Homo sapiens: one gene and its partners. The protein of the gene in region 4 purifies or fractionates together with the protein of the main gene of each other region. This does not show direct contact. Each region holds a gene or a part of one and is shown on either strand. Other genes may lie near its edges.

Region 1 (7,943 bases), on a different chromosome or scaffold from region 4:
GAGGGAGTGCTTTATTGGAAGAGAAGACATCTAGTCTTCAGTCCTGGCTTTCCCCCTAATTTTTCATGACAATTGTCAAGTCTTTGGGCCTTAGTTTCTTATTTTGTAAAATCAGGTGGCTAAGAATGAAGATCTCTTCCTAAACAAAAATTCCATGGTTCTAAAGATCCTGGGTCTCTTCTACCTTAACCCCAAGTAAAAGCAAACTACCACATGGTCACAAATCTTTCTCAGTCCACATCACACCTCTTTGGCTTAGCACCCCCCTGCCCCTGATGACTCAGGAGGATAGGAGAGCTGCTGCACAGCTGCCACAAAAGTCAGCCTGTTCCTGGATTCACGTCATTTATTTTTTCACCTGCAGATCCATAGTTTTTTCCATAGTTTTGTGATCAAATATGCTTGGGAAATAAGTAACAATGAGGATAGAATGGAAAGTACATATGAAAGAGAGGGAAGCATGTTAAAGAGAAGTAGAAACTAACTGGAAGTGCAACTATGAGCTGAGTGAGAAGTCTAGAGCAGATTTCTCAAAGTTTCTAGATTATGGAGCTAATGATGAAATGTGGTCATAGGAGGAGAAGCAGATACTGTGGGGGAAGACAGGGAGACTAGCTTTGCAGATGTCTAGAAGGAACCATCTGATGTGTACGGAGACACAATTTACTTATCTATAAAATAAAGGGGTTTTATAGATAAACCAGAGATAGACATTTCCCAAATGTGGACAACGTACTATAGATCCCAAGGGATCTTAATAGTTGTTTTTGCCAAAGAAAAGGAAACAAAAGAGTTCTATAGTCCCATATGTAAAATAGAGATAAACAGTTAAGATTTTGTTTTTATTCCATGACCCTGAGAAGTTTTTAAAACAATAGGATGGGCTGGATGTGATGGCTCTCACCTATAATCCCAGCACTTTGGGAGGCCAAGGCAGGAGAAGCACTTGAGACCAGGAGTTTAACACCAGCCTGGGTAACACAGACAGACTACATCTCTAAAAAAAGAAAAAAACTTAGCCAGGCATGGTGGCTGGTGTAGTCCCCAGCTACTTGGGAGGCTGAGGCATGAGGATGGCTTGAGCCCAGGAGTCTAAGGCTGTTGTGAGCCATGATCACAACACTGTACTTCAGCCTGGGTGACAGAGCAGGACCCTGTCTCTTAAAGAAGGTGGGGAGGTGAACTGTGAATCTCTAAGATGGGAGTATGTACAAGACTGTATTTTCCAAATTAATTTTACCACAGAATCTTTTATTCATACTATAAACATTTAAAACAATTAAATTTCAGCCATGTTTTTTGTAATTGAAGCTAGTTTTGGTAAACAAAGTTATATTGTAACACATCCACATCCATTCATTTACATATTGACTAAGGCTACTTTCCTGCTACAATGGTAGTCACTGACAGAGAGCATATGGCCTTTTTAAAAGCCTAAATATTTGGCCCTTTACAGGAATGTTTGCTGACCCCTAATTTAAAGGAATATATCAAGGTGTAGAGAAACCTAGCAGAGCTGAAAGCATCCCTTTTCTATGCAGGAGAGTAGGACACCCCTGAATCAGAAGGTGCCTGTTTCTGAAAGCTCTGTAGCACAGAGCCATGGTTATGAGCAGTCTGGAGACAGACTGACTGCCTGGGTCCAAACCCCCAGCTCTGAGACTTAATAGCTATAGGATACATCAGTCTCGCGTGTGATATGGGAACAGTAATGGTACCTACTTCATTGTGATAAATACATTAACTGTTAAGTAAAAAGCACTTAGAACAGTACCTGACATATTAGAAGCACTTTATAAAGATCAGCTATTATTATTTTCTCTCTCACTTTATAGGGACAGTAAGCTTCTGTCCTAAGGGTATGCAGGCAGAGCCTGGTCTGAGAGACTAAAGCTAATCTATGACTACTATGGTCTGTCCCAGCTTGGAACACAGACTCCAGGATTCTAAGATTCTAAAATGTTATGGCTTAAAATGCCATGATTTTATGATTCTTTAAAGTTAACAGGCCAAAGATGCTGATGACTTTCCTTTATGCTCCTGGAGAATGTGCTCTGGAATTTTTCTCTTCCCTGGGGAAGCTGGATTACCCACTGTATGCCACAAGGACAGCCATATTACAAAGTGGTGAGACTATCCCTCTGAGGAAAATCAAAAAGCTCCAAGAGACTGCAGTAGAATTTGGTTCCCACATCTAAGAATAACCTTGTCTGAGAATGTTTCCCTTTCTTCATGTTATGAAATGAGACACACACATACTCAGAATACAAATCAGTAGCCAAAACACCCTTGGCAGCCAAAGAGATGATGCTGCAGAAGAAGGCCTTGCTTGTTTGTCCAGACAGTCTGAGATAGAAGCAGAACTGCAGAGCTAGAAGACTCAGAGATCATTAAGACCAACGTAAACATTTCACAGATGAGATAATGAGTAGTTGCTGAAAGAGAGAGCTGTTTGTGGGGATCTAAGACTCAGTGCTACTTCCTCTAACCACAGTGGTTCTCAAGGTTACCATTTGTCAGGAGGATCTTCATGAGGCTGGAGAAACTGCCTGGGGGCCCTCATCCTAGGTTCTGTCAGTAAGTCAGGTCAATTCCTCTCAGGGAATATCCTCATTTGGACTAGACAGTATCAGAGAACTTCTCTAGTGCTGACATTCTAGGTCTCTGAGTATTTCAGAAGACTTTCATGAGGAAATCATTTCAGAGGACTTTCCATAATTTACTAGTGGTCCTGTCAATACTCTTGAGGAACACTGAAAATTCCCCTGGAGCTATAGCCTGAGCTTGGGTGACACAAAAATCAGGGTTTATTACTTTATGCATCTAAGTAAAAGAAGCTGTTGGGCTTGTTGCAAAAAAGTCTCACAGATTTTGCCCAAATGAACTTAGACTCAGTTCACTCACTGGAGGCCTGGCTATCCTGAAAGGAATTCTAAGTCTGAAGGTCACAGAATTAAGACTTTGGAATGTTGTGCCTGAAGGACATTAGAGGTTTATATTCAACCTCCTCCTTTTCCGAGAAAGAACCTGGAGCCCAGAAGGACAGATTTTCCCCAAATTGTACAGCACATCAGTACACAGCTAGGCCCAAAGTTCAGGGCTCACCCTGCCCTAGGCAGAGCTCTTGCTGAGTTAAAGTCTCTGTAGTCCAATCTTGGGCATTTAATATACTGGCCTTTGTTGTCCCCATTTCACTAAAGGCAATATCATGAAAGAAAAAATGAATTAGATCACTCGAAGTCCCAGCTCTGCCTTATAAAAGAGGCTTTGTTTATGATGTCCTATTCTTTCTCTTAGGTTCCTAACCATAATTTTAGAATCAAATGGGATAATAAAAAGAGTATGTACATTAACAAGATAAAACCTTTTCAGCGCTTTCTGCAATCCTTTTTCACTGTCATAAATCTTTTTCAGTTGTAGAAGCCCTACCACCTTCAAAGGCTTGATCCTTGCATCACGGATGCCTTTTAGACTAATTGGTTTATTGATCATCAGATTTATATGTCTGGACAAAATAAAGCTCTATGTCTGAATCTTGCTTTGACCCCTAAGACTCCTTGTTGGTAGCCAAGTGAGACAGTGATGAATCAGCAGGAGACCTAATTACAAACAGGCTTAGCAAGTATCAGTGAAATTGAACTGAATTTGTCAAAGTGCCCTGAATTTTCTGTGGTACTAGAAGCCACAAAATCTGAATGCTGGGAGGAATCTTTTTGAGTATGGGAGGGCCAGTCAACCCCAACTGCATTAAAAAATGGCACAGGTTTATACATTACTTGCTTGAAACAGAGGTAGGCCAGGCATGGTAGCTGGTGGGCAGACAGCTTGAGCCCAGGAGTTCGAGACCAGCCTAGGCAATGTGGGAAAACCCCATCTCTACAAAAAATTAAAAAAATTAGCTGGGCATGGTTTTGCATGCCTGTGGTCCCAGCTACATGGGAGGCTGCGGAGGGAGGATTGCTTGAGCCTAGGAGCTTGAGACTGCAGTGTGACGTGATTGTGCCACTGGACTCCAGCCTGAGTGACAGAGCAAGACCTTGTCTCAAAAAAAAGGTGGGGGTGGGTACATTTTGGTCTTTTTCAGGGACTGTGATAGCCTGTCTGGGAGGGAACAGTGGGATGTGGCTGCTGGACACTTAATGGGATTTCAGGAAGATTTCAACATAGTAGAAGGCAAGGCCTTCTGTTACTCAGACTTCCTGTGGAAAGGGTTGCCTCTGAAGGGAATGAGTACTCCATTTTTGGAGATGGTTTGTTGGCCAGCTAAGGGCAGCTAGAGAGGTGGTCCCTGTTGGGGTGGAAGACGCTGAGTACACATCATCTTGCTGAGAGATAAGGAGTCTAATTGCAAGAAAGAACCTTGGAGATGATTTAGTTCAGTTCCCTCATTTTGCAGTTTGAAAAATCAAGGTCCAATGCATGGACATCAATTATCCAAGGTTACACAGAACCCAGTCTAGAATTCAATGCAGCTTCCACTCCAGGCTGCTTTCTGCTACACTACAGTAGGTGTGCCTATATGCGTCTATATCCAGATGTTTAGATGTAAGAGAGAACATGTATATCCCTATTTTTATATATATATAATCTTACGTATGTTCATTCATTCTACCTGAGGTATCTGGAGAAACTCCTTATGGCTGACATACCTCTCTCTCTTTTTTTTTTTTTTTTTTGAGACGGAGTCTCACTCTGTTGCCCAGGCTGTAGTGCAATGGCGCAATCTCGGCTCACTGCCAGCTCCGTCTTCTGGGTTCACACCATTCTCCTGCCTCAGCCTCCCGAGTAGCTGGGACTACAGGCACCCGCCACCATGCCTGGCTAATTTTTTGTATTTTTAGTAGAGATGGGGTTTCACCATGTTGGCCAGGATGGTCTCGATCTTCTGACCTTGTGATCCGCCCACCTCGGCCTCCCAAAGTGCTGGGATTACAGGTGTGAGCCACCGCGCCTGGCCTGACATACCTCTCTTAAAGAGTAAAATCAATCTCATGAGAAAAGTCAGTAACTGAATCTTAACCTGGGTGATACCTTTTTCCGGCTGTGCTGCTTACTAGCTGGGTGGCGTTGGACCTATTACCTTTCTAGGCCTCATCGTTCAAACTGGGATGAAAATCCACCTAAATAACTTAGTAGACTGAGTGTAATGTAGATTAAATGAAAGGGTGATTATGAGACTATATTTTACAAAAGGTGAGTTACGTTGTATAAACATAAACTGATGTTGACATCTAGGGGCAATGAAAACTTGAGAAAATGACATTGGATGTTGATATGGTTTAGATGTTTGTTTCCTCCAAATGTCATGCTGAAATGTAACCTCCAGTGTTGGAAATGGGGCCTGCTGGGAGGTACTGGATCACAGAGGTAGATCCCTCATGATGGCTTAGCACCATCCCCTTGCTGATGAGTGAGCTCTGATTATTTAGAGTGTGGCACCTTCCCAGCCCCTTGCTCCCTCTCTCACCATGTGATATGCTGGCTTCCTCTTTTGCCTTCCGCCATGACTGTAAGCTTCCTGAGGCCCTCACCAGAAGCTAAGCAGGGGTTGGTACCATGCTTGTGCAGCCTGCAGAACCGTAAGCCAATTAAACCTCTTTTCTTTATGAATTACCCAGCCTCAGGTATTTCTTTATAACAACACAAGAACAGACTAACACAGATGTTTTAAAGAAAAGAAAAAAATACAATGAATTCTTCTAGTCTACTTACTTAGTAGATTAATAATTTGTGGAACCACACACTATCAGGCCTTGCCTGGAATATCCCTTTGAGGGCTTATCCAGCCCTCACAACTTAAGAGAGAAGTTCTCACCACATCCAAAGTCAGTCATTCCTCTATTGAACAGCTCCAACAAGACACAAAGTTCTTCCTTATATGGAGTCAAAATGCCACTCAGTAATTTCATTTTTTTTTTTTTTTTTGAGACGGAGTCTTGTTCTGTCGCCCAGGCTGGAGTGCAGTGGCGTGATCTTGGCTCACTGCAAGCTCCGCCTCCCGGGTTCATGCCATTCTCCTGCCTCAGCCTCCTGAGTAGCTGGGACTACAGGCGCCCACCACCATGCCCGGCTAATTTTTTTTGTATTTTTAGTGGAGACAGGGTTTCACCGTGTTAGCCAGGATGGTCTCAATCTCCTGACCTCGTGATCCGCCCACCTTGGCCTCCCAAAGTGCTGGGATTACAGGCATGAGCCACCGCGCCCGGCTGCCACTCAGTAATTTCTAAACATTGGTCCTCATTTCCCCAGTGGAACCACTTTGTGTTAAAAATTAGATGTGACGGTGACAACATCAGTTACCCTACTGAGCCTCAGGATGAATATGACCAGTCTGACTGGCTAGCTGGTTTCTGGCCTCCCTGAAGACTCCTCATACACACCTTGGTCCCACAGTGCAGCTTGCACTAGGGCAGTGTTTCTCATACAGAGGGCAATTTTGCCCCATAAGGGACACTTAGCAATGTTTAGAAACATTTTTGGTTGTCACAATGAGGCTTTCCTACTGGCATGTAGGGTAGAGGCCAGGGATGCTGTTAAACATCCTATAATGCACAGGACAGCGCCCCCACAACAAAGAATTATTTGGCCTAGATGTCAATAGTGCTGAGATTAAGAAGCCCTGTGCTAGAGGGGGGAGCCCTCTCTGTCCAAAGACCCACAGACCTTCAAAATGTGCCCTCTGTCCTTTCCCCCTAAAATGCAGTAACAGTCCTTCCCCAATCAACTTGTTGGCCAGGTGAGTATTTCCTTCTCCTTCCCTCAGTGCTTTGTGTTTCCCCAAAGCTGAGTGCATGATCAAAGAGAATGACCTTTCCTGAATAAGGAGGGGTAATTTTTTGCCTGGGTAAAAGAACCTCTTAAAACATTATTTATCTCATAAATGTCATTTTAAAAAGCTCCCTTTCCTTTCTTCCTAAGAAACAAATCAGTCCCAACCAAGGGGAACAAGGAAATGAGACAGGCTGTATTTACTGAAAGCCGCAGAGGATGCTTGGTAAGTTCGGTTCTCGGTCCCGGTGTCCACTGGGAGGTGGAAGGTGCCTTCAGTGCCACAGGAAGACGAGTTCTGTGGCCAGGCCTGTTTCATCAGCAGAGTTGCTTAAGGGAAGACACAAGAATGGCATTAGACAGAAATAAGAAGTGGCCACCACCAATCACAGACACAAAGCAAGGGTCTTGTGCTGGACAGAAACATACAACCCAAGGGGCCTGTTCAGACACATGGGATGGTCAGCCTTTCTGAGATGGTTGAGTGGGTTAGGAGGAGTGCTGAAGTATGTTTCCAAATGATTTGAAATCAAGGAAATCTGAACTTACACTAAAAGAGTCAGGACTTTCTACCTACTACTAAAACCACAAAGATGCCCATGAATAACCATCTCCTACTACCTGACACTGTGGCCTAGGGCTCTGGTATATTCCTCAGCCACTTTCTCATTAATGTGTAACAACTTGGGAGCCTTTGTGTGTCACCAGATCAACTGAGCACTCTTTGTTGTCTGAAATATCATCTGGAGGTATATTTATAAGCTGCTTTCAAAGACAGGCCCACAAATAATGACCACATTACATGAACCTTGCTGGACTACCATCTCTTCTGAAGGGACTGAGCTGTGGCCATGGTAGCTTAAAAGGCACTGGGCACTGTGCCACACCGAACCTAGTTAGCCAGTGGGGCACTCCTTGCTAATAACTCCTTCTCCTGTACACCCAGCTGAGGCCAGACAGACATACTTCTTGCATACCCCTGAATATCTCCTACTGAGGTGTTACTGGGTGCCCCACCTGGGATATTTCCTCATGAATTAGAGGTGGTCCTTTGGGCCATTAAGAAAGCACATATGAAATTTGGGGTAGGTAGGAAATATAGATGAGGCCCAGTTTAAGATCTGCAAAGACTTCCCAGGCTGACTCAAAGCTCAGCTCGAGACATCTGAAGGATG
Region 2 (8,266 bases), on a different chromosome or scaffold from region 4:
AGCAGTTGTAGGCCAGAGCTAACGTGGCCAGCATTATTACAAGCCAGAATGATTTAGACAATTAACTAACTCCATTCCATATAACAAAAAGATTTCAAAGGCCAAATAATGGCCTCACTTAATTTAAGCGATAATCATTACAAATTCTTATGTATTCCTTTATGCAATAAATATGCTTCCGAGAAGGCCCAGTTAGAGTGAATTTTTATATATCAAGTCATAGTTTAAAGGCACTAACTAGGAAAGCTAGTACTTACAAAGAAAACCTGTTGTGGATTCTTTTATAAAGCAAATGACCTCCTATTTTCTTTCTTTCTTTTTCTTTTTCTTTTTTTTTGTTCAGATTGTGTGTGTTGTGTGTGGAAGGGGCGACTTCCCTCCTTTCTCTGGGTTAAAAGGGGTCAGAAGCCCACCATGGAGGAGAGTAATGCAGTATGGCCAGCCTGTTTAATACCCCCTTAGTTCCTGGGACAAAATTCTAACCTTTGACTTGGGGGTGGAACCCTAGAATTTGGACCAAAGTCCACAAAAGGCAGCAAGGAGGGAAAAGTAAGTAAGACTAAAGACAACACATCATAGTAAAACACCAACAAAAATTCCTGGGGACAGGAAATCAATGGATCACAATTCTAAACAAATTGGTTTAGTCCCCAGCTAATTAACTTGTCAAGCAGATCACTAAACCTACTGAATCCATGGGAGAAAGAGATGATGTAATAGGAGATTTGGAAACATTTACCCATTTACCATCCTAAAAGGCTCCAGTACGACCACACACACCTCTCCCCACCCCTTTCAGTGTTTAAGCTGGGCTTAATGGGTGCAAAGGACAATTTCTACCAGACAGTCCCCAAGAATAGACTGTTCTCATGCATTCCAAATGCTCAGTCTCCATGGAGGAGGCTACCTGGTCACAAGCATTTCCCAAGAGGGAATATATCCTCTATTCCTCCTCATTGGTAACAACTCCCCCACTCCACCCCCACGCCCCAAACAAAACAAAACAACTTCTAACCATCCTGAGAACTTCAGGGGACTTTTCTGGGGTAAAGGAAAAGAAGCGTTAAGAGGGGAACAGGAAAGTGTGAGAAACCCCTCTTGTCTCCAAATGGAAAAAAAGGCCTTAAAAAGCTGGATCAAAGGAAGAAAGGGGGATGGGGAAGAAGGGCCGCTTAATTACAAAGACACCCTTTTAAAGAAGGCGCAGGCCCTGGGAGAGGGCTCTTGGGAGAGGCACAGAAGCAGATGTACCCACTTAGAATTCTGGCACTCAATGGGACCTCAAGGTCATAGTATCCATCCCCCTGCCTTCTGATTAGGCTATTCTTAAAGCATTCTAGAGTCTGATGCAGTCTTTACAAAACCTCAGAAAGAAAAAGCAACTCTACAAATGTCCTTGTTGGGAATTAGTCTAATAAATCAAACTTCATAAACCAGAAATGAAATTTTAATTTCCAAATCCAAAACTGCATTGACTATGAATTATTAAAATTCCCTTTCTAAAATCTTTTAAATAGGTAAACAGATCCACAAATTTCATGTAAAAGTGACTCCACATACAATTGTGGTCAGAGGTTTACTTCACATCTAGACTGTGAAGGTAGAAAAAGCACTTACAATTTTACAAAGCCACGAACTTTTCCAAGGAAAGAAGTAATTTAAAATGAAGTATGATGTAGTGCCAGAAAGTGTCTGTCAATGACGCCGGATAAACCCATACAGAATAGTTGGAACCTTAGTTATCATCTGTAAATAGAGGCAACTACTCTACAACCACCTGGCTGTTAAAATGTCCCAGGCCAGTTATAAAATGTAGTTTGGTCAGGCCAGCTTTTCCCTCCCAGCTGATCTGAAACAGGATAGCCTTTAAAATTGTCGCCCTTCTCTACCTTCCTACTTTCCTTTCACTCATTAAAATCAACCAAAGTTATTTTAAAATGTATGTTAATAATGTGTTCCCAAATAAGCAATGGGTTAAGGACATCTCAGTAATAAGTCTTTGAACACCATCACTTACAGGCTTGACGCACTTGTCCAATTGAAGATAGGTGGGAGATGGATGAAAATGTATACCACATCCAAAATGGCATTTCAAACTATTCTTAGCTACTAAATGAGGGTGCTGAAAGGTCTAACTGAGAAGGCTTCACAAAGGCTGGCCTGAGAAAGAACTTTTCACAAAGCCTAGCTCAAGGAGACTTAAATATCCTTAGCCCTTCATCATTGAAGATTATGGTGACTAATTATCTTCTTCTCTGAATGGGAGAAGAGGGTTATATTCATAAAAGTTTTAAACTGCCTCCCAACGTCCACTCTTCATGGCGGGGAGGGAGGAGAACTTCATGCACTAAACATCCCAGGTTGTTGAAAAGTTCGTTCTAAAACATACACTAGAGATTGAAAATGCTGTTTCTCACCAACTTTCTCTTTCCTTGCTCATTTAATTCTACTTAGTCCCTTTATGCAAATTATTATATTATTATTAGTGGCAATCTACCAGGAACTGCTCACAGTCTATTAAAGACTGTTATTTTCCCTCCCCCTTTTCTTTCTCTTCATTTTCACAAACCCATGAAGCCCATCTTACTGTTGAAGCACCAATGTGCAGTGGCCCAGGCTTGGACCCTCAAGACACCCTCAAGATCCCCCAAAACTATTTACTAACATCTTTGGATCTTCTAAAGCAGATAGGGGCAACTCCCTCCTCACCACCACTATCACTACCACCACAAGCACTACCACCACCACCACACATCTCAAAGAGTAGCCTTGTTTTAGATTACACAGACTTTAAAACTTCAAGAATTCACGGTCCTACCCCTCCTGCTCCCGCCTCAGGGAGTGTGAGTCCCCACCCCAAGCCTAAGCACTTAGCAGAAACCTATCTAGTTATCTGAGATAAGCACTGACATGCATGCTGGGCTAAATGTAGATTTCAGCTTCCCTCGGGTCTTTAGCTCCTCAATGTGATTAATTACCTAGAGACCCACAAGAACCCCAGGAGGTAAAGAAGTAAAAGTACCATCTAGTAGTGGTACCCACTAGCATCTCCTCACCGAAGTAGGACGGGAAAGCAGCGCACACTCTAACCGATTTAACTTGCTGCACATCCAAAAAAACTCATGGCGAGCTGCAAAGAAAGTAGAACACACGGGCATTCCCACACGCGCCTAGATCGATTCACTCACGCCGAGGGCACGACCAAGTTCATGCCACCATGGATTCCTGCCCCAGTTCCCCGCGAAAAGTAACCACGCGTCTCCTACCCCTGAAGGCAAAGAAGACAAGGTGACGACTCTCTGCTCGCTCAAGTGGCTTCGGTCCCGGGCCAGCGGCCAGGGATGGGCAGGGGGGAAGCCCCAACTCCCGGCTGCTCCCCTCCTCGCTGCTCCGTCCGGGCTCTCCTTGGTGGCAGCGGACAGGCAGGATACCGGGCCAGAGGGTGGAGCAGCGGATAGCCGGAGGCGAGACTGACTGGAGGTGGTGGTAGTTGAGGGGGAGGCGGAGAGAACTAAGAGAAGAGGAGGCGAAAGAGAGCGGAGATGGAGGAGTAATTCAGGGGGTCTACCAGTTTAGGCAGCCAGAAAGCTCCTCGGAAGGAAGGGGCGTGACTGCCAAGGCAGCTCCTGGGCAAAGGATGGGAGGTAGGGGAGGGGGACGAACGGGTGGCTTTTCTTCTTGCGGTGAGCGGCTAGGACCGCCCCGGAGCAGGGCGGCGGGAGGGGTGGACGAGGGAGGAAGGCGGAGTAGAGGGCGGGGAAAGAAGGGCGGGAGCCTGCCTGGACCCTGGAAGTGAGGAGTGAGGGGAGCGCGGAAGAGAGGCGGGGCCGGGGGGCGTGGAAGTTTCAAACAATTGAACCGCGGGGTCCGGGAGCTCGGGCGAAAGCAAGGGACCCTCGCTCTCGCCTTCCCACTAGAGGGGCACGACTCGGTTGCCGTAGCCGTGAGAGTCTGCGCGGGGACTGGCTGGGAAGAAGGAAAGGGTTTTGCAAAAGACTACAATAATAATCTGCGGCAACAGCGCGGCATAGACGCGTGGGAGAGCCAGTGCAGCTCCCCGCCCCACTGCGGGAGGAAGAAAAACAAATAATAGAAATGCTGAAAAGCAGCTTCCACCAAAGCCTGCTTAAAATAATGCAGGAAGGAGAAGCGCTCCTTCGTTTTCCTTCCCCTCTTGCTTCCTATTACCAGCAGGCCCCCACCCAGGTCACAGCTCTGCGAGACACCCTCCTTTCTTCCTCCGCTCCCCCGCCCCGGGCGCTTGCCCCCCTCCCGTTGGCGGGCCGCAGAAGCTGAGGGGCGAGGGAGGAGGGGTCGCGGGCGGCGCTCCGCGGAGGCTCCGCCCCTGGGCGGGCTGGGAGCGCCGGCCTGGGCGGAGCGCGTCCCTGAAGCGTAAGTCCCGCCCACCATTCTTTTGCAGCTACCGGTTGGCCCAGCCTGGCCTAGTATACGCTTGCGATTGGGCCCTGGAGTCGCCAGTCTGATCCCTTTGTCCCACCCGCCCTCAAAATTAATAAAACTAAACAAGAGGCTATTGTGTAGTTCTATGTTCTACCCCAGCTACTGCTGGCAAGAGAAAGATGAGACGCTTTATTTCTCAGTCTCATAAAAGAGTGCAACAGTGTGTCGGCCGACTCTGGTACGCCTTTATGTTTATGGCACTGTCCAGCTTTCTGCGAATAGGTAACTTTTCTTCCCCCTTAGTTTATTAAATCAGGAGGGGGGAAAGTACATGAAGTGTCATTGTGGTGTTCTGCTGACTGTGAAAAAAGCTGACATTGGTTAAAAACGAGAGGGTTGAGAACAGCATCCTGGGACACGGAAAATCTACCATTTTACATCTAGAAAAACGAAGGCACAAAGAAACAGTGTCAGGGTAGCAAAATAACATGGAATTTGGAACCAAAGGAAGAATTCATTTGGGGCCCTGGCACTTACTAGCTAATTGTATGACTTCTGTTAAGTGGCTTAACTTCTCAGCCTTAATTTTTCTACCTGTAAGTAAATGCTGTAAGACATGCCCTATTAACTTAAAGGCACTGGTATGAAAATAAAATGTGTGTGAAAACTATAAAGCACTCCACACATGTATGTGTTCCTACTTGTGTGTGAAACATAATGGAGAGTCTTAGATGTGTTAGAGGATCAATATTTTGCTCATCTGTTTTAAGCATTTACATCCAAGGTCGTGTAGGTTTTGTGGCTTTATTTTAAAAAGTCAACTCTTTTCCTACAATTTTGGGGGTGGATATGAAGTTGACTCCCTGCAGTTAGAATAATAAATTACCCCTTTTCTAAGCAGGGTGGGTGAGATTTCTTTTTTAAAGTTCTACAATTTCATGACAACTTAAAGCTATTGTGGTTCTGGTACTGAAAGAGGAAATCATGCTGTGTATCTCCGAAGTGAACTTAAGAAAACAAATATGAAGGAACATTTACCATGGAAACCACCATTCTCTACAGATCCATATTTCCTAGAAAACATTTCAAGTAGGAAGCAAGCCTAAATGTAAACGCCTTGACAGCGCAAGGCCATTATAATGGCTCATGCCAATGAAAGAGTGACATCCAATTCAAGCCTGCCTAATGGGAGCCATCTGGGGGGCCATGGATCAAGGCATGCAAGAGGAAGTGTGCTTAAAGGAAACACTATCACACAGTAAACAGGGGCTCAGAATCCAACTCTGCAGGAAAAGTAGTGGACTATTGCATGTCATGGAGTGTGCAGCATGCTCTGCTAGGAGCTGTGGAAAGATTCAGAAGCAGGAGTGTGCACAAAATGATTCTCGTTATGATTCTGTTTATGTATGAAGTGAGGTTATTTGGGTGATTTTTCATGGAGAAAGTGAGTTTTTGAATGTTCAAAATATGGAGACACCTGGTTTGTGAAGCAAGGAAAGGTTATTTCAGCCTTGTTATTTGGAGTGGACAGGAGAGCTAGATGTGGGGGGGCGGGTATATGCTGCAGGACTACTACCAATCACAGAGGCAAAAGGATATTTGTTAAAATCAATGCTGTCCAAGTGAAAAAAGTTAAACATGCACATGGAAGAATTCAGATAAAACGGTACTGGGCTGGGCACGGTGGCTCACACCTGTAATCCCAGCACTTTGGGAGGCTGAGGCGGGTGGATCACTTGAGATCAGGTGTTCAAGACCAGCCTGATCAATATGGTGAAACCCCTTCTCTACTAAAAATACAAAAATTAGCTGCACGTGGTGGCATGCGCCTGTAGTAGCAGGTACTCGGGAGGCTGAGACAGGATAATTACTTGAACCTGGGAGGCGGAGGTTGCAGTGAGCTGAGATCAGCCACTGAGCTCCAGCTACTCGGGAGGCTGAGACAGGATAATTACTTGAACCTGGGAGGCGGAGGTTGCAGTGAGCTGAGATCGGCCACTGCGCTCCAGCCTGGGTGACAGAGCGAGACTCCGTCAAAAAAAAACCAAAAAACACCAAACAAAAAGGTACTGAAAGACTACAGTGAAAAGTTCTTCTCCACCACTCTGCTCCCATAGTCCCATTCTCTTTATGACTGTATGTCATCTTCCAAATAGATTATTTGCATATTCAAGCATGAGTGCATATTCCCTTTTTGTTCCTTACAAGTGGGATCATTAATCAAGGCACACCTTGCATTTGTTTACTCAACAATGTATTTGAAATATTCTTCCATCTCAGGATAACTATGTTTACCTTATTTATTTTATTATAACTCAATATTCTATTGCATAGCTGTGCCAAAATTCCTTTACTCATCCCCTTATTAAATGGGGATTTGGGAGACAGACACGGTGGTGGCACACGCCTATAGTTCCAACTACTAGGGAGGTTGAGGGAGGAGAATCCCTTGAGGCCAGGAGTTCAAGGTCAGCCTGGTCAACATAGCAAGACTCTATCTCTAAAAAAAATGGAAGCAAATTTGGGCTATTTCCCATCTTTTGCTACTACGGAAGATGCTATTTAAAAAAATCCTGGTAACAAAGGCCTGGTGGCTCATTTGTAGTATGCCTGCCCCTAGCCTTGAAGTTGCCTTCAAAACACTTTTCTAACATGCTTTCCTTTCCCCACAGCGACTTATACTGTGGAGCAATGGAATTGGAGCAATGGAAACCTCTAAAACACTTAATTCGTTTAACATCCGCTCCTCAAACCCTGCTTGGGCATTACTCTTCTCCAAATTTTGATGGAGTAGAGTTAGCAGAACTCTGAACTTAATGGTGAGTCAGGCTGTGTGTGAGTCATTTCTTAACCTGTGGCAAACAGCTTTTTGGTACTTCTGTTTAACCCAGGTCTTCCAAGCCTTCTATCCTGCCATGCAAGACTTCTTTGTTTTCACCCTGAAAACCTTTCAGTTTGTTTAAACCGAGTTTGGATTTAAAGCTGTGCATTGCCTGCACTACTTAAAAGAGAGGGGGAGGGGGAGGCCAACATCAACAAACATCGATTGAGCCGCTATTATAGACAAGACTGAAAAAACAAAGAGGCATGAGACTTAGCTCCTGCCTTCAAGGATATAAACATAAAAAGACAACTAACAAGCATGTGCTAAGTGCCAAATGAATGGTATTGACAGTAAAAGCTGTGGAAGTTAAGAGCAGAGAGTGAAAACTAGTTCCAGAGAGTTAGTTTATACAGCACACTGTGCCACACACATTTAACTAATCCCCACAGCATCCCTGTGTCTTCATATCCTGACTATAAAGTATAGAAAGCCCTCTGGGGGAGACCAGGAGAATTAACCACTAGCTGTAAAACACCTGTGTAAAGACACTGGGTTGCCTAGATACTACACATTAAAAACCTCCATATAACGATATGGAAAAAAGGAGGATCATTTTAAGCTCAGAAGTCAAGATTCCACATCCCAAACTACCTGTCCTATTTGGCCTTTATTTTTTTTTCTTAAAATACACCTTTATTGCACAATAAAAATCAATATCTGTGCTGTACAAAATAAAATCCATTAAAAAAATCAAATGTCTACCTTGAAAACATTACACAAAATGAAATAAGCCAGATACAAAAGGACAAATATTGTATGATTCCACTTACATGAGGGATCTAGAATGGATAAATTCATAGAGATAGAAAGTAGAGTAGTGGTGATCAGGGGCTGGAGGAAGAGGGAGTGGGAAGTTAGTGTTTAATAGTACAATTTCTGTTTGGGATGATGAAAAGGTTTGGAACTAGATAATGGTGATAGTTGTATAATATTTTGAATGTACTTAAAGCCACTGAATTGTACACTTAAAAATTGTTAAAA
Region 3 (7,943 bases), on a different chromosome or scaffold from region 4:
TAATACATGTCTGCAAATTCTTTGACACACCTGTGGAAAGGTGGGTCTACATCCTTGAATTTAGGCAGGCTTATAATTATATCTATTTTCCACTTGGCCAAGAGAAGATAGAGGAGTAACCCTACGTGACTTCCAAAATTAAATCATAAAAGGCAATGCAGTTTCCATCCAATTTCTGGGAATACTCACACCTGGAACCCTAAGCCACCATATAAGATTCTAACTAGCCCGATCCTATAAGGAAGCCAAGCCATGTGGAAAGGCAACTTGTTGACACTCTGGTCTGCAGACCTAGCCTTCAAGTCATCCCAGCCCAGGTGCCAGACATGTGAATCCAGTCACAAACCACTCATGCGCTCTCAGTCTTCTTGCCCCAGAAGTCCCAGGAATGATGGAGCAGAGACAGGGCATCCTACAGTGCCTTGCCTGAAGTCCAGACCCATAGAATCTATAAGCATAATAAAATGTTGCAATAGTAACTGCAACAACCATGATAACTAACACTTAACTCTTCCAATGTGTCAGATATTGCTCTTATACCCAGCATGTATTTCTCCTAACAATTTTTTGAGGTAGGTGTAATTAAGATCCCTATATATCACATGAGGAAATTCTACTTGACAGAGAGGTTAAGTAATTTAGCCAAGATTATAAAGCTAGTGAGTGGCACAGTTTGGGTGTGAATACAGGTTTCCAGTTCTGGAGTCTTAACCATTAAGCTCCATAGATAATTACTGAAATCAAAAAAAGATATCCAAAGGGCACACCACAGTTAGCCTATTAGGGTCCTCTTCCCACCATCAGGCAGGACATTACATCATATTTTCTCAATTTAAGCAGATTTCTAGTAAGATACCCCCACACTTCTATTAATTCTTTGGTTGCCTCTTTGCCCTCCATATCCTCCTAATCTGTATTTATCCACCCTCCCCAGGAGAGAACTCTTCTAAGCTTGTAGAAGTCATGATATCTGTGATTTAAGCTCATTTCAAAGTGAAAATAAAATAAATACTTGAAAGACAGTTATGAATCCTTTCTTCTCTTCTTAGAGCAGAACGAACCCAGTTCATTTGTCTTTTGTTTTCTAACATCTTAATACATTACATTCCTTTTATAGAATATGAATTCCATGGGGAGCAAAGGATATATATCCCACACCTAGCCCAGTTCCTGGCACATGACAGACCCTCAAATATCAGATGGATGAACTATATATCCTTTTATTGTAACCCCATCAAATTCTCCACCTCAGTATTGACTTGTACAAAGCAGAGTTATTCACTCAACAGATATTTAAGGAGTGAGTGATTCTGTATCCAAATTTCTGCCTAATTTATATTCTGTCCAAAATAAGAAATGTCATGCTCCCTAATGTCTCTTCTATAAGAGAAATTGAAAATATTCAAAGTAAATTCAATTAGCATAATTGTGACTACTGCCTAAATAAATTACTAAATTTAATACAAGAAATTCAGTATTTTATTTTATGAACAAACAATTACACATAACCCATTTTTTGTTCCTAAACTAATAAAGTTATTTTAGTCACTTAATAAATGTCATTAAAATGTAAATATTTGTCTTTATTTCAATTTTTTTCTCCAAACTCCTGGAATTTATTTTGGAGAAATTTGAAAGTAAGAAATGTTAGAATTTGGGGAAATGTAATGCCTCAACTCAGGGTTAAGCTAATATATATCTCAAAGTAGACTTTTTAGACTCTATTCTTCAGTTTTTTGATGACTATCATACAGGATCAACTCTAAAAGTCAGCTAAGGTATATTTATTCACCATTTTTATGCCACTTACCACTCATTTTTGATCTGCCAGGCCAGTCAATACCACGGGAAGATAAGCCTGACAGGATTATGTCCTTTAACAAACCTACTAGTTTAAACAAACCTGACACCGCCATTATCTTCAATGTTTGTATAAATGGTTGTGTGATGCTTTTAAAATTACTTTCCCAGGTGTCTTAATTGAAGCTTACTGTGATTTCAGAAGGCATTTTCTTTGCTCTTTTAGATAAAAAGACCATTAGACCATTTCTCTTTTCAAGAAGCTAGATTGGTTTTACATGTGTTTTTCTGCAATGAATTTAATGATATGCACTGAGTGCTGCATCCAGTAATTTCCATAAAAAGCACATTTCCTAATCTCTTTGTCTGCCCTTCTTCTATGTTCCAACCTTTCCCACATCACCAGGATGAGTAATCAACCTATAACTGCAGTGATATTTAGGAGCCAGTCCCTCAGGAAACAGGGCCTTACCAGAGGATTTCATATTCTCTACTTTTCCCAAGACCAGCAGATAGAGGAGGCTTGCTCACAAAACACTTGGTTCTCAGAGCCCTCCAGAACACCACCCGTGTCAGAAAGGAAAAGGCCTGCTTCACACCTGCTGTCAGGGGTCACATTGCTGGGTCATACCACCCAGAGCAGCCCTCACAGCTGAGAAGCAGCAGCTGAATGTGAGATGCCTCCTTCCTCCCTGGCACGTGGCCACAGGGCGTGTGCAGAGCCCTACCTCACAAAGAGAAAGCAAAGCAAGCTTGGAAGACAAGATATCTATCATCCCTGTCTTGCTGGGCCTATTCTGAGAAGGGTGGAGGAAAGGTGGGAGGAAGCAGGGAAAGAAGGAAGGACAGAGTAGGTCAGAAGAGGTGCAAGAAAACAGAAGTGGGAAGACCTGTTATGTGAGTGGCTATCACAATAGTCCAGGAAACAGGTAATTAGCCCTTAAACTGGTTTAGCTGTAGAGACATGCAAAGGAAGGGAAAGTATGCAAGAAGTATTTTGGAGGTCAACTGCAGGACCTAAAGACTGACTGGATGTAGGGTGGGCAAGGAGATGAACCTTATTACAGTTTACAGAACACTTTCAAAGGAGACAATAGGATGATGAAGTGTGGAATGGTATCTGAGCATGTGCAAACACTGGAGAGATGAACAAGCGCCAGCTGCCTGCCTCTCATTGACAAAGCTTGGTTCAACAGTGGAACGGATCCAAGGTGGAGAAGTTCAGGATGACCTTTGATGGTCCTCTTCAGGAGGACCTTTCCGTGCTAATTCCACCCAAGCATTTCTATTTGCTTCTCTCAAGGACCAGATCCCTGGAAGAATCCCATGAGTGGAACATCCCTAGAAACAGCAGACATCTCCTGATAATGGCCTGGTAAGCTTTGCCGCCAGCATAACCCAGTTGCCATGCTGACCCAGCTTTCAAATGGAATGAGCCTCCAAAACAGAAGTGGTAAAATGGGGTTCAAGTGAATAGAGCATTCCCAATCAGTTCATACCAGCCCTCCAAGGGAGATGTGGTACATTTCATTCAAAAATGTGTCCCTGTCTTATCATCTGAAGCCCAGTGGTGTTGCCATCAGACAACAGAGCCAATCTCACTATAGAACAACACTCCTCAACAGAAATTGCTGCAGTGATGGAAATGGCTATTAAGCACTTGAACTGTGGCTAGTGTGACTGAGGTCCTGAATTTTTCATTTCGTTTAATTTTCATTAATTTAAATAGCCACAAGTGACTAGTGGTTACTACAGACAGCATAGGTCTAGAACTTTAAAAACATAGATGTGGGCCAGATCACATCTGTCCTAAACTGCTAGAAAAAAAAAAAGTCACAGAGTTATATTTCTCTACTCTGAGGAAGCTGAATCTCTAATATTTCAACATCTGCTCAAGCAATTTTCCAGCACTGGGCTCTCCTTTGGTCCTTACTACAACTATTTATCAATCAGCCTCCAAAACATTTCCATTTGGAAGGCACTCAGACCCTAGCTTAACCATCCATCCACTGCAGGAACCTTCTTCATGATGTCCCTGAGTATGTCCATGGTCCCTGCATATGTCTATGCAATCGTTACCAAGTCCCCCAAGTAGCAATGAAACTTACCGTCAGTCAGAGACACTGCTCCAAAAAGATACTGATGATGCAGAAAATAATTTTAAGAAAACTATTTTACACAAAATTTCACTTCTTATGAAGCTCTTTCACATTCACTATGTCATTTAAGCCACACAATAACCTTAGAAGATAAATATTTAGTAAATACACTTACTTTATAGAGCCTAAGTGATTTACCAAGGCAATATGGTAGCCATATACCCAGTTGTGGCATGTCTTCCAAGGAGTGAGAGACAAATGATAGAAGAAAAAGTCATGGTCAGGAAAGTGAGGCACAAAAGAAGAGTGATTAGAGGAAGAAATATAGCTATATCAACTAATAACCTTAGAAATAGATCTGTTTCAAACTCAATTACTTATAGATGAACAAACTCCATTCCAAAGGGTAAGCATCTCAGTCCAGGCCCAATTTAAAGGGGCTATGTTTTAAAATGGTCATTCTTAACATGTGTTTCCAGTACCAGCAGCATCAGCATTGCTTGGAAACGTGTTAGAAATGCAAAGTCTTAGGCCCTATCCTCAATCAACCAAGGAAACAGAAACTCTAGGGGTGCGGCCCAGCAATCCATGTTTCAATAAACCCTCTGGGGTATTCTGATGCTCAATCACATTTGAGAACAACTGTCCTGGAATTGTACATCTAAGACCCAATTAATTTCCTCTGAGAAGTAAACAACTTGGTCATCAAGAAGGAAACAGAGCTGCCAGTTATGAAATTTGAGACACGGCCTGGTGACATCAGCCCTGACTTACTGCACCTACAGTACCAAGCACCATAAACTCTGAACTAGCCTTCTGAATGCAGACCCACCTCCTCCTGCCTCCTGTGCTCAAGGGCACAGAGGAAATCATTCTTTCATCAGAAATCATACTTTTATAGAAGCAAAGAAAGGTTTATTTTATAGATAGTAATAGATTGTGAATAGGGCATCCTAGCTTCTATCTCATTCACTAAGTAGTATTCACAGCGCTCCCAACTGTGAAAAGGAACACTTCCATGAGTAAGAACAGGGGTTCCAGGTTCTCAAAGAAGACGGATACATGCGAATTTACGTAACATTATAAAGTGTTTTGCTTCTCTGCTGTTTTAGTAATAATAATGGTAGCAGGTATTTATTGAATGCTTTCAACGTGCCCAGCATTGTGCGCATTGCTTCACTTTGCCCTCATGCAGCTCCATGAGGGAAGAACTATTATTTTCCCCATTTTACTCATGAGGCTTCAGCATGTACAATTCCGAGGTCACACAGCAAGGAGGCGGCAGGGCCAGGATACACCTGTTCTCAATCCAAAATACTACCTCTCCTTTTTCATTTTAACATATACATAACTCTTAATCTATTCAACTTCATTCATACTGTTTATGTTACTGAGTTTTAAGTACTGTGTTTTCACCTTCTTTTAAGCTATCATGCCATGTACTGTTCAAAAAGGTCCTCAACCACTCAGTTTATGCCAACTCAATCAGCATGTGCTCAAGAATCAGAGTAACACACTCTAAAGAATTCATGGCAATAAAGATCTAAAAACTGGATCAAAAGCAAACCAATTTTATTCCCACCATGGTTGGGCAGCATGCCCAGGGAAGCCCTCCCTGACCGCCTGGACCAAAGTGAGCCCTCTCTCCTCAGAGCACCCACAGTACATCACATGTGTCCCCATCATAGTAGTAACACATGGTAATGTCCACATGCCACACCCCTAATCTGTGAGCACTTCAGAATGGGAACTACACCTGATAGTCCATCTGTGCATATTCGAGACCTAATAGATGGTTTATAAGCTCAGCAGCAAGACATACAAACTCTTAAGACAGACAAAAGTGAACTATAACTTAAAAATAAAATGTAAAACTATAAAACTTTTAGAAGAAAACACAGCAGAAAATGTCTGAGACATGGGTCTAGGCAAAATGTTCTTAGATGTGACACTAAATGCACCATCCTTAAAGAAAAAAGGAATCTATCAACTGGACTTTATCAAAATAAAAAACTTTTGATCTGCAAAAGACCTTGGTAAGGACATAAAAAGACATGCTACATACTTGGGAAAATATATGTGCAAGCCACAAATCTGACTAAGGACTTGCATCTAGAATATATAAAGAACTCTTAAAGCTCTAAAGTAAAATAAATAATCCAGTTAGGGAATGGGCAAAAGGCATGAATAGTTATTTCGCCAAAGAGGATATATGGATAGCAAATAAGCACATAAAAAAGACAGACATTAAACATAATCAGCCATTAGGGTAATGCAAATTAAAACCATGGTAAGATTAGAGCACCTACTAGAACACCTATTAGGACAACTAAAATAAAAAATAGTGATAACATCAAATGCTAGTGAGGTTGCAGAGAAACTGGATCTCTCATACATTGCTAATAGGAGTGGTGCAGCCACTCTGGAAAAGTTTGGCAATTTCTTAAAAAACTAAACACACACTTACCATACAATCCAGCAATCACAATCATGGGCATTTACGCCAGAGAAATGAAAACTTATGTTCACACAAACACCTATATATAAATGTTCATAAAAACTTTATGTGAAATAGTCATGAACTGGAAAAAACCCATAGGTGAATGGTTAAACAAACCATAGTACATCCATATTATGGAATACTACTCAGCAATGAAAAGAAACAAACTATTGAGAGATGCAAAAATTTGGATGGATCCCCATGGCATTATGCTGAGTGAAAAGCCAATCTCAAAAGCTCACATACTACATGATTGTATTTATGTAACATTCTCAAAATGATAAAATTATAGATATGGTGAACAGGAGTAGTGGTTGCTAAGCATTTAGCAACAGAGTGAGGATGGGGAGAAGAGGGCCAGTGCAACTATAGAGGTGTAGCATAAGGGAGATCATTGGGGTAATAAAATAGTCTGTACCTTGATTGTGGTAGCGGTTACATGAATCTACACATGAAAAAATGCATAGAAGTACACACATAGAAATACAAATTTTACATGTGCATGTAAAACTGGTGAAATCTGAATATGCTCTGTGGACTGTACCAATGTCAATTTCCTGGTTCTGCTACTGTACTATGGTTATGTAAGATGTTACCAATGGGGGAAACTGGGTGAAGGGTACACAGGACCTCTCTACTATTTTTGCAACTTCCTATGAAGCTATGATCATTTCAAAACGAAAAGTTAAAAGTAAACAGCAGACATTTTACTTAAAAACAAAATGAAAAAATAGAGGTATATAGCTGCAATATTGGCCAGTGAGGTCTCAAACACAGGTTTAAACACACACCATAGAACGACAGTTTTTGAAAACTTAAATCTAATTCTTCAGTATCTTAACAGGGATACATTTCCAACACCTTAGAGCTACTCTCCTACTCTCTCCTAAAAGATGGGGGGAAAATGCCTGATGTGTGAGCCCCTTTAGGAGTCCAGGAGTCCTGTCCTGAGTGTCCAAAATGAATATACCCTAAGGTTACACAAGGCCTGGCCGTGAGAGCAGAGCCAAGGGCCTCACAAGTTAAAGTAGAACTCAGCTTGATGCCAACACATAAACCAAGAGCAGGAGTGGCTTCCTTCCAGCAAAAGTAGAGGACTGCCCTACCCACAATGGCCAAGATTTACATTGTACCTCTCCTTCAAGACAAAACAAAGCCAAGCCAACAAAATTAACTTTAAAAAAATCACTAGGCAAACAAAAAAACAAAACAAAACATAAAACCACAACAACCTCAGACTATTTCCAACAAACCTTGTAATCAAATATCTCCCTTTACTTGACCTCCACACTACCCCTTGCTTTTCGAGGATTTTATTACCTACTAAATTCTGAGTCATAAGAACCTGCCAAAATTAATGAAAAATAGGAGAAAAATTATTCAAAACACTGCAGAATTTTCTGACCTGAGCTTCCTTATGCATTTAAAATGCAGATAGCCACACACCGCACCCCCCCCCCAACCCCGCCAAAAAGAAAAGAAAATAGAAAAGGTTACTTTGGGGGAATTTTATATATCAGAAATATTAGCAGGTCCTATAAAGT
Region 4 (7,943 bases):
CCCCAGCACCCCGGTGGGGCATGGTCACCTTGAAGATTTCAATATGACCTATGAAGATTCCAGTTACGGCAGAGTCCCCGTGTTGGAGGCTGGCGGGAACTGCAGAAATCAGATGGGGCTATGCAGCAGCTCAGGGCCTTTCTGCTGGTTTTCATGTCCTGTGTGCAGATAAAGCCTCACACCTATGCAGAATGAACACTTTCCGCTGGCGGGCTGCACTCCATTCTGAACAGGGGACCAACAGGCCCTCCTGGAGCTCCAGGGGCTGGCAGGGGAGCTCCACAGCCGGACCCCTGTGTCCCGCCACTGGGGACTGCCTGGGGGACCCTATCTAGCAAAGGGATTTCTTCTCTATTGAAGGCGGCAAGGCTAGGAGTGGCGCTCGGGACCTCAACCCCTCTCATTCTGCCAGGCTTGGGGACGAGGTCCCTGCCAGGCTGTGCCGCCGGGTCAGGCCTGCCTGAGCTCACGGAACCGCCAGGTGGGTTCCTGAGAGGCGTGGCTGTTTGGGAAACTCTTGGACCCAAAGGTCTGGGTCCCTCAAGGTCTCAGAACACCTGGGGTGCCAGCTCCTGGACAGAAAGTGACAGCAGCGTAACAAAAAACCTGCAACCCTACAACACAACCACTTCAAGTTTATACATGGACAAAGTCTGAGGGAGTTTGCTGTTTTTGTCCCGTGGATACCCAGGCAGCTTAGACAAACCTTCATTGGCTGAGAATGAATTAACTGGCCGGCATGTGTCCTGCGACTCAGCCTCCACCGCTGGCGCCTGCTAGGGAGGCAGGCAGAGATGGCCTCGCCCCAGGGCCCGCTCCCTCAGACCTTCACTTCATCTCCATCATCAGAGAGGCTCAATTACAGGCAGAACCTCCTTTGCTGGCAAAGACCCTTGGCGCTCTCAGTCCCGAACAGCCACCCCCAGTGGCCAGTCTCCTCGCCGAACTAGTCCAGGAGGTCTCCGGCCTCTGCGGCAGCCCCTGGGGATGCAACACCTTCCCTTGCACACTCACATACACCCAGGGTGGGGTCTAGAGGACAGGGGAGAGTTTTGCAGAGAGGGTCAGCCCTCTGGAACTTTGCAAAGGTGGGGCCAAAGGCAACTAGGGGGCTTTATTCCAGACTGCCATCCGCGGGTCGGGGGAACTGCAGGGCCTCCTGGGATCAGGCTTTTCTGCCAGCAGCGAGATGACAGTGTGGTCCCACACAGGGCCACATCCACGGGGGCCTCCCAAGGGCTGCGGGGCCAGTGGCCTCTCAGGCAGGGAGGACTCAGGACTACATGTGCGCTGGGGGGCGTGGGAGGGGCGGCCTCGGTTACTCCTGTCCAAAGCCCTCGGTCTCCTCAATGGCATACAGCAGCTTCTCTCTCAGCTGTTCGTAGCTCTTGTAGGGTGGAAGATCCAGACGGTTGAAGCTATTGAGAGTGGGGAAGCACGACAGTCAGCCCTAGGAGGCCAGGGCTCTGATAGCCCCACCATGCCTGCCTGCAGCAGGGCCACAGGGCTTGCACCACACTGGCTAGGGCTCAGGGGCTGCCAGTCAGGCCTTCACATTGCAGGTGCCTGGACCATGGGGTGTTAAGGGAGGGGCCAGGACAGCTGGAAATTGGTTGCGGGGGACACTTGGGGCAGTAGCTCTTGGACTACTGGAACAGAAGTGCTTCATATGTAAAACCCGGTAGATCAGATGCCCATCACAGCCCCATCTCTCCAACCCAACACCCCAGGGCCACGCAAAAGCTGCCAGACTCGAGGCTATGAAGCTGCTACACCCACTGGGCTGTCCCAGGAGCTCATCGGGTCTGAGGCCCCCCGACCTCCCACTAAAACCAGCAGGCTCACCAGGTGTGGCTTCTGGGCAGCCAGGTTTCCTTGCCAACTTTGTCAATGCAAAACTTCTGTGGTCCGTTGCTACCTGTGATCCAAGGTAAAACACGCCGACGTCAGCAGAGACGTCCCTTCCCAAAGCAGGATCCTCCGGCTCCACCCACAGATGGGCTCGGCCCCAGGATGCAGAGGCCACAGCTCTTCTCCATCCCACTGACGTGCTTCCAGGAAGAGACTAGGTTTCCCCCTCCCTCTGAGCTGTCCGCACTGCCAGCCAGGACGCCAGAGGGCGAGAGAAAACATACCGATGAGTTCGGCAAATCCCCCGACGGGCAGGCGGCAGGTACCGGTGACAAACTGCAGCAGCCGGATCCTCTTCTCGTTGTCCATCTCCTTCACCACCTGGAAGTCCGCAAGTCAAGGCACAGTCAGGCAACCCACGGGGCCCAGTACTTTGCCCGAACGTGGAGCTCTCTAGCTCAGCGGGGCCCCTCTTTGGGGCTGAGAACACAAAGCCAGGTTGGCCAGGGGATGACAGCCTCCAACCTGAGAAACCCCAGAAGTGCTTTTGCTAAGAGGCTGTGTGTGCATGAGATTCCCACCAGTCCATGGGACATCTCTGGGTCTCAGGGACACCTCAGGCTGGGTATTCTCTTCCCATCCACGTTCTGCTTTTAGAGATGACTAAATATGGGAGTGACTGCTTAATGGGTATAAGGTTTTTGGGGAGATGAAATGTTCCAGAATTAGATAGTGGTGCCAGGTGCACAACACTGTGAATGTACTGGAAGCCACTGCTCTGTCGCCCAGGCTGGAGTGCAGTGGCACGGTCCAGCTCACTGCAGAGCAGTGGCACGGTCCAGCTCACTGCAGTCTCCACCTCCCAGGTTCAAGTGATTCTCATGCATCAGCTTCCCGAGTAGCTGGGATTACAGGTGTCCACCACCATGCCTGGCTAATTTTTTATATTGTTAGTAGAAAGAGGGTTTCACTATTTTGGCCAGGCTGGTCTTGAACTCCTGACCTCAAGTGATCTGCCCACCTCGGCCTGGGTGGGAAGCCAAGGAACCCAAAGTGGAAAGCCACTGAATTGTGTATCTTAAAAAACTTAAATGGGTTGGGCACAGTGGCTCACGCCTGTAATCCCAGCACTTTGGGAGGGTGAGATGGAAGGACTGCTTGAGCCCAGGAGTTCAGGACCAGGCTGGGCACCATAGCAAGACCCTGTCTCTATTGAAAAAAAAAAAATTAATAGTTAATTGTATGTTATACAAATTTCACCTCCACAAAAAATTTGTATACGTACATATGCACACAGACATGTACTAAGAATACCTGTAATCGCTATTTTTTTTTGTATGCTGTATTTCATAACGACAACAACAAAACCCATACGTATAAAAGAATCAACACATTAATTATACATAGGATGACAGCTCTTTCTGGTTTCTGGAGCCAAGCCCCTGCCTTCCTGTCCCATCTGGCTGGCAGGGGACCTCTCAACCAGTGGCAGCTGCTGTCTGCCTGCAGGTCTGTCCCTGCACACCAGCTGGCCCAAGGCTGACCACTGACGACCTCCTGTCACATCCACTGGCCACCACTCAGCTGGAACTGTCCCCGTTCATCCCAAGGCTGGTCTATCGTCTCCTTTTGCAAGGTGTGGGAGGCAAGGACAGGGCCAAAGCTGAAGGTCCTTGCGCGTGAGGCCTCCTCAGGACCCGTTTCCTTTGGTTGATGGCCCAAATGTCCCTGCCAAGGCCTGGGCCCGGGACCCACCTGCCAGAACCACTGGATCTGCTTGCTGTTCTTGGTGTAGTGCCGGTAGATGGTGCTCTTCTGCCAGTCGCTCATGTCTATCTCCTGCATGCCGCACAGCATCAGCTGGGGAGAGGCGGCAGTCAGCATCCCCGGCAGGTCCCTCCCCGCGCATCGTCCACTCGCTAGCACTTGACATTACCCCAAACATATTCAACTAGCTATTTTTGGTGTCAGCGTTAATAATATGGGTAATGTAAGTCCCTGCTTTCTTGAAACAAGTGTCTGGGGAAGGGTGGGTCCCAAATCAAACCCATCTGCCCTGCCGAAGTGGGAGTTTTACGCTGAGTGTCTGTGGGTACACAGTGAGCGTATCACAGAGCAGGATCGCCCCAGAGGCAGGGGCTCAGGGTCCCAGCAACCTCAGACACTCACCTCCAGCTCTTTCTCGTCAAAGTAGCGCAGCCACTCCAGCGGGGCCACCTCGTTGAAGCCATCCAGGAAGGCTTTGGTCTGCTCTTCCACGCCTCGGGTGAAACGCCAGTCAGTCAGCAGCCTGAGACCAAAGAGCAGCCATGGGTGGAGTCTGAGACCCACTGCTCAGGGGTGGCTCCCGGCCAGGCCGCGTGGCCGTTACCGCGCAGGACCACCAGATCAGCAGAGCCCACTTCGCACACCCAGACCCAGCCTGCTGGAGGACCTAGAGTGAGGCCCTGAAAACCTCACAGTGACCTGCAGACACCGGAGTCTTTGAAATCATCCTCACCACCACCTCCTCCTGCTCCTGCCCCCAGCGCCGACTGAACCTCAGACGTATGGAAGCGTGGAGATAAAGACTAAAGCAAGAGGCCTGAGGAACAGGCACGGAGAACGGGCACACGTGAGACGGTGGGTCTAGGCACACAGGCCACAGAGATCCTTTCGGCCCGGAGAAAGATGCAGATGTCTCAGCTTGATGCCACTTCAAAGAAATTCCACGCTGCAGGCTTGAAGTCTCCCACATGGCGAAAAAGCACAGCTGGGAGTCGGTAACTAAGGACCTCGGCTTTGGTTCCCCCAGCTCGCGCCATCACATGACCGCCCACCAGCAGCCACCATCAAGGCAAATGCAAATGGCATCCACAGTGACCGATGGGCCACAGGTGGGGGCCCATCTTTCTCTGCAACCCACTAGATCTCCACGCCACCCCTGGAGCGGAGCCCCCGGCGCCTGAGACTCACATGATGTACTCTTCCTTGTTCTCCTCTGTGACCCGGATGCTCTCGCCGCCCTCCTTCAGCTCGTGGGTCGTCACCTTGCCCAGTATCTCCATGTCCTGGATGAAGTACAGCTCCAGGCCACATTCTTCCAGGTTGTTCTCTCTGGGGGCACAGGAGACCAAGTGGGGAGATGTCTACCGTGTCAGGGTCTTTCCTGGATCCTGCTCTGTTGCCCGTGGGACACCAAGGGCCCACAGGTGGCCTAGAATCCTGAACAGTGACAGGGGACAGCTCCTTGACTCAAGGAGAAGGTTCTAGAACTGTCCCCAGGGAACCCAGAGGACATTCCTCTCCACAAGCTCTTATAGAGGCTGGAAAAGAGCTCAGGGGCCACACTGGCAGACAAAATAAAGGCCATCAGTACCTGCTTCCCACCCAGAGACGTCCCTCCTATCAGCGCGGTGGGGCAAGGGGGCAGGGAACTCACTTGATCCAGACAATGGAGTTGTAGAACTCAGGGTCAATGGACTCCAGGTCTTTCAGGGTTGGTCTCTTATTGAGCATCCGCTTGTAGAAAGGGAGGGTGAAGCCCGTGTCGATGAACTTTCCATGGTACAGCGCCTGGGAAGGAAGAGGCACAGCACAGAGGTTTGGCCTTCCCTGGGCACTGCCAAGACCAGCTCTCAGATGCTCGGTATCAAACTCTGCTACCGCTACCCGCCTTCCTTCCCTGACAGAACTACAGCAGCAGCTGCCTCGGACGCAGCGGGAGGGCCTCAGGAGTAAACAACGCCTTTATCCTGACTTGTACCTACAGAGGGACTCCCACCCTGCCCTGCAGACCGCAAGGACTGGGCAGAGCCAGCTGGTGCGGGAACCCACGTCCGGGCCCGCATCTGCCCCGCACGCTGGCCGGCTGGCTCCTGGCCTAGCAAAGGTCTGCCCCACGCTCACAGAAAAGGCTTGCTCTGAACAGCTGCAGGTGGCAGCCCTGATTCACTGGCGCTCAGGGTGGGTGGCAAAGGCAGCCAAAAATAATGCAGACACCGCCGACAGCGAGAGCTGGCGGCCAATGGTGAGTAATAGTCTAGGGTTTTACCGGTCTGTCCTGCTGGCTGCTGGGCCAGGCGGGTCTCTAGACCTGGGAAGAATGTGCCCATTTCCAGAGCCCAGCACCTTGGCCAAGAACTCCTCGACGATGGGAAGGGCCGGCCATATTTAGTCACAGGCTCATGGGGCGCTTGGGTCCTCCTAAGAGGGGAGCCGGGTGGGACACTCAGGAAGGCAGGGGAAGAAGCGAAGGAAAGGAGAATTGAAACATCTCCAGCTATGCATGTGGCTCCCGCGCTGTGCCTCCCACGGGCTCCGCTTCTCAATCCGGGTTCTCCACGCTCCCAGGACCCTCAACGGGGCACGTGGCAGGACCTCCCTTTCCATATTCACATTGTGTCCCTCTTTCCAGTTAAATACAGACGCTGGGACGCCCCTCCCCAGAACTGGCTCACTTTCTGACAGATGTCCCTACACCCTGCACCAGCCAGTCTACTGTTCACCAGGAGGCAGCGTGGCGTGAACGGCAGCGCCCATGGACTGGCGCGCCCTCTCTGGGCTCTACCCTTCGCCCCCATAGAGCTGGTAACCTAAAAATGTAAAAAGCTGGAGATAGTTCTGGAGAAACCAGAGCTTTCTCAGTGGCTGCCCTGTAGGTACTGAAGAGTTTCCATGTTGCTTTGCATAGGACTTGTCAAGAGGGGGCCCAGGGTCTCTGGGCCACAGACTTTACGTTTTGTTCTACACTAGTGTTGATTCCAAATGCCCTTCCAGAAGGCTTAGTGTCTCAGTGGGACATTCCCAAATGCCGTGACAGTGTCACCTCCCAGAGACAGGCAGCAGGTGGGCAGCTATGGTTTCACCTGGCCCTGTCATCCCAAGGCCCTCAACAGAGCACATATTTAATGTTCAGTAAAGTCTGTGGCCCAGCGACCCTGGGCTCCCTCTTGACAAGTCCTGTACAAAGCAACATGGAAACTCTTCACTACCTACAGGGCAGCCACTGAGAAAGCTCTGGTTTCTCCAGAACTCTCTCTAGCTTCTTGCATTTTTAGGTTACGAGCTCTATGGGGGCAAAGGGTGGAGCCCCGAGAGGGTGAGCCAGTCCACGGGGGCTGCCGTTCACGCCACGCTGCCTCCTGGTGAACAGGCCCAGGGCCTCCTCCAATGCTGCCCCTTCCTGGAGGTCTCAGAGAAAGAGCAGATTCCCCTGGTGCCCCTGGCACACTTCACCAGGAGAGGGAAGAGGAGGGAGAGGAGGAGGGAACTAGGCAGACCCCTGGGGCCCCCTTACCATGGCGATGAATCTGCCTATAAAGCGAAAGTAGGTGAGGTGGTCCGGGTTGATGGAGGAGGCGGGGTTGATCTGCAGGCAGTAATTGTTCTTTCCGGCATATTCAAATAAACAATACATAGGGTTGAGCACCTCATGAGACAGGAGGAAAAACCACTCTCTGTGAGGGAAGAGACAGAAAAGACAAGAATAATGGGTCCCTTCGTGCACATCTGCACAGGAGCTGTGTCTCTTCACCATCGTGTCTCAGGTTAGTATGGGGACACGTGTCCCAGGGAGTCGAGCCCTGTGACAAGCACCCGGGCTAACCTATATGAACAGCTGGTCAGTGAACAGGGCAGGCTCAGACCTACAGTGAACCAGGGCGGCAACTGCATTTGAGGATGATATTTGGGAAAACGTGTGATTGTCGGCTCCCAGGTGATGTGTTCCAAGACTTTACATCACAATATCCAGAGCTTCTAATGGTAAAGGGGGTCCTTGTACCCTGGGTCACCATGCTCAGTTGCCTAGGCTGTGCACTGCACAAGGGCACGATGCATGTTTATTACAATAATTTTTCTGCAAAGGTTCTGTTTGAATAGTAACTACCCTGTTTCCACTCTACCTGGGCGGGCAACATAACGTAAATACACAGCAACACATTTCCAACCCCGATCCATGACAATGTAATCCATGCTGCCTTCAGATGAGAAACCTCATGCCCACCAGCTATGCAACACTCTTGCACTTTGCCCTCCCTTCACCCCCAGACCCCAACACCATCCCCGTTCCCACACTTCCACGCATTCATCTGAACCAACACCCGTGCCCT

Evidence for each region.
Region 1: the proteins of WWP2 (region 4) and FAM168A purify together in Homo sapiens (affinity purification with mass spectrometry; 5 studies listed by BioGRID and IntAct, with this or other methods). This does not show direct contact.
Region 2: the proteins of WWP2 (region 4) and AMOT purify together in Homo sapiens (affinity purification with mass spectrometry; 5 studies listed by BioGRID and IntAct, with this or other methods). This does not show direct contact.
Region 3: the proteins of WWP2 (region 4) and AMOTL1 purify together in Homo sapiens (affinity purification with mass spectrometry; 5 studies listed by BioGRID and IntAct, with this or other methods). This does not show direct contact.

Annotation. Positions count from the first base shown.
Region 1 is NC_000011.10:73,412,902-73,420,844, forward strand, and holds part of FAM168A (protein FAM168A), read right to left. Parts: intron 7,099-7,943; coding exon 6,973-7,098; intron 1-6,972.
Region 2 is NC_000023.11:112,837,186-112,845,451, forward strand, and holds the start of AMOT (angiomotin), read right to left. Parts: upstream 3,647-8,266; 5' UTR 3,267-3,646; exon of another isoform or gene 3,023-3,266; intron 2,766-3,022; exon of another isoform or gene 1-2,765.
Region 3 is NC_000011.10:94,771,176-94,779,118, reverse strand, and holds part of AMOTL1 (angiomotin-like protein 1), read right to left. Parts: intron 1-7,943. UniProt on the Homo sapiens protein: Inhibits the Wnt/beta-catenin signaling pathway, probably by recruiting CTNNB1 to recycling endosomes and hence preventing its translocation to the nucleus.
Region 4 is NC_000016.10:69,933,316-69,941,258, reverse strand, and holds part of WWP2 (NEDD4-like E3 ubiquitin-protein ligase WWP2), read right to left. Parts: intron 7,290-7,943; coding exon 7,130-7,289; intron 5,407-7,129; coding exon 5,273-5,406; intron 4,948-5,272; coding exon 4,807-4,947; intron 4,142-4,806; coding exon 4,021-4,141; intron 3,712-4,020; coding exon 3,607-3,711; intron 2,233-3,606; coding exon 2,136-2,232; intron 1,919-2,135; coding exon 1,846-1,918; intron 1,419-1,845; coding exon 1,319-1,418; 3' UTR 1-1,318. UniProt on the Homo sapiens protein: E3 ubiquitin-protein ligase which accepts ubiquitin from an E2 ubiquitin-conjugating enzyme in the form of a thioester and then directly transfers the ubiquitin to targeted substrates.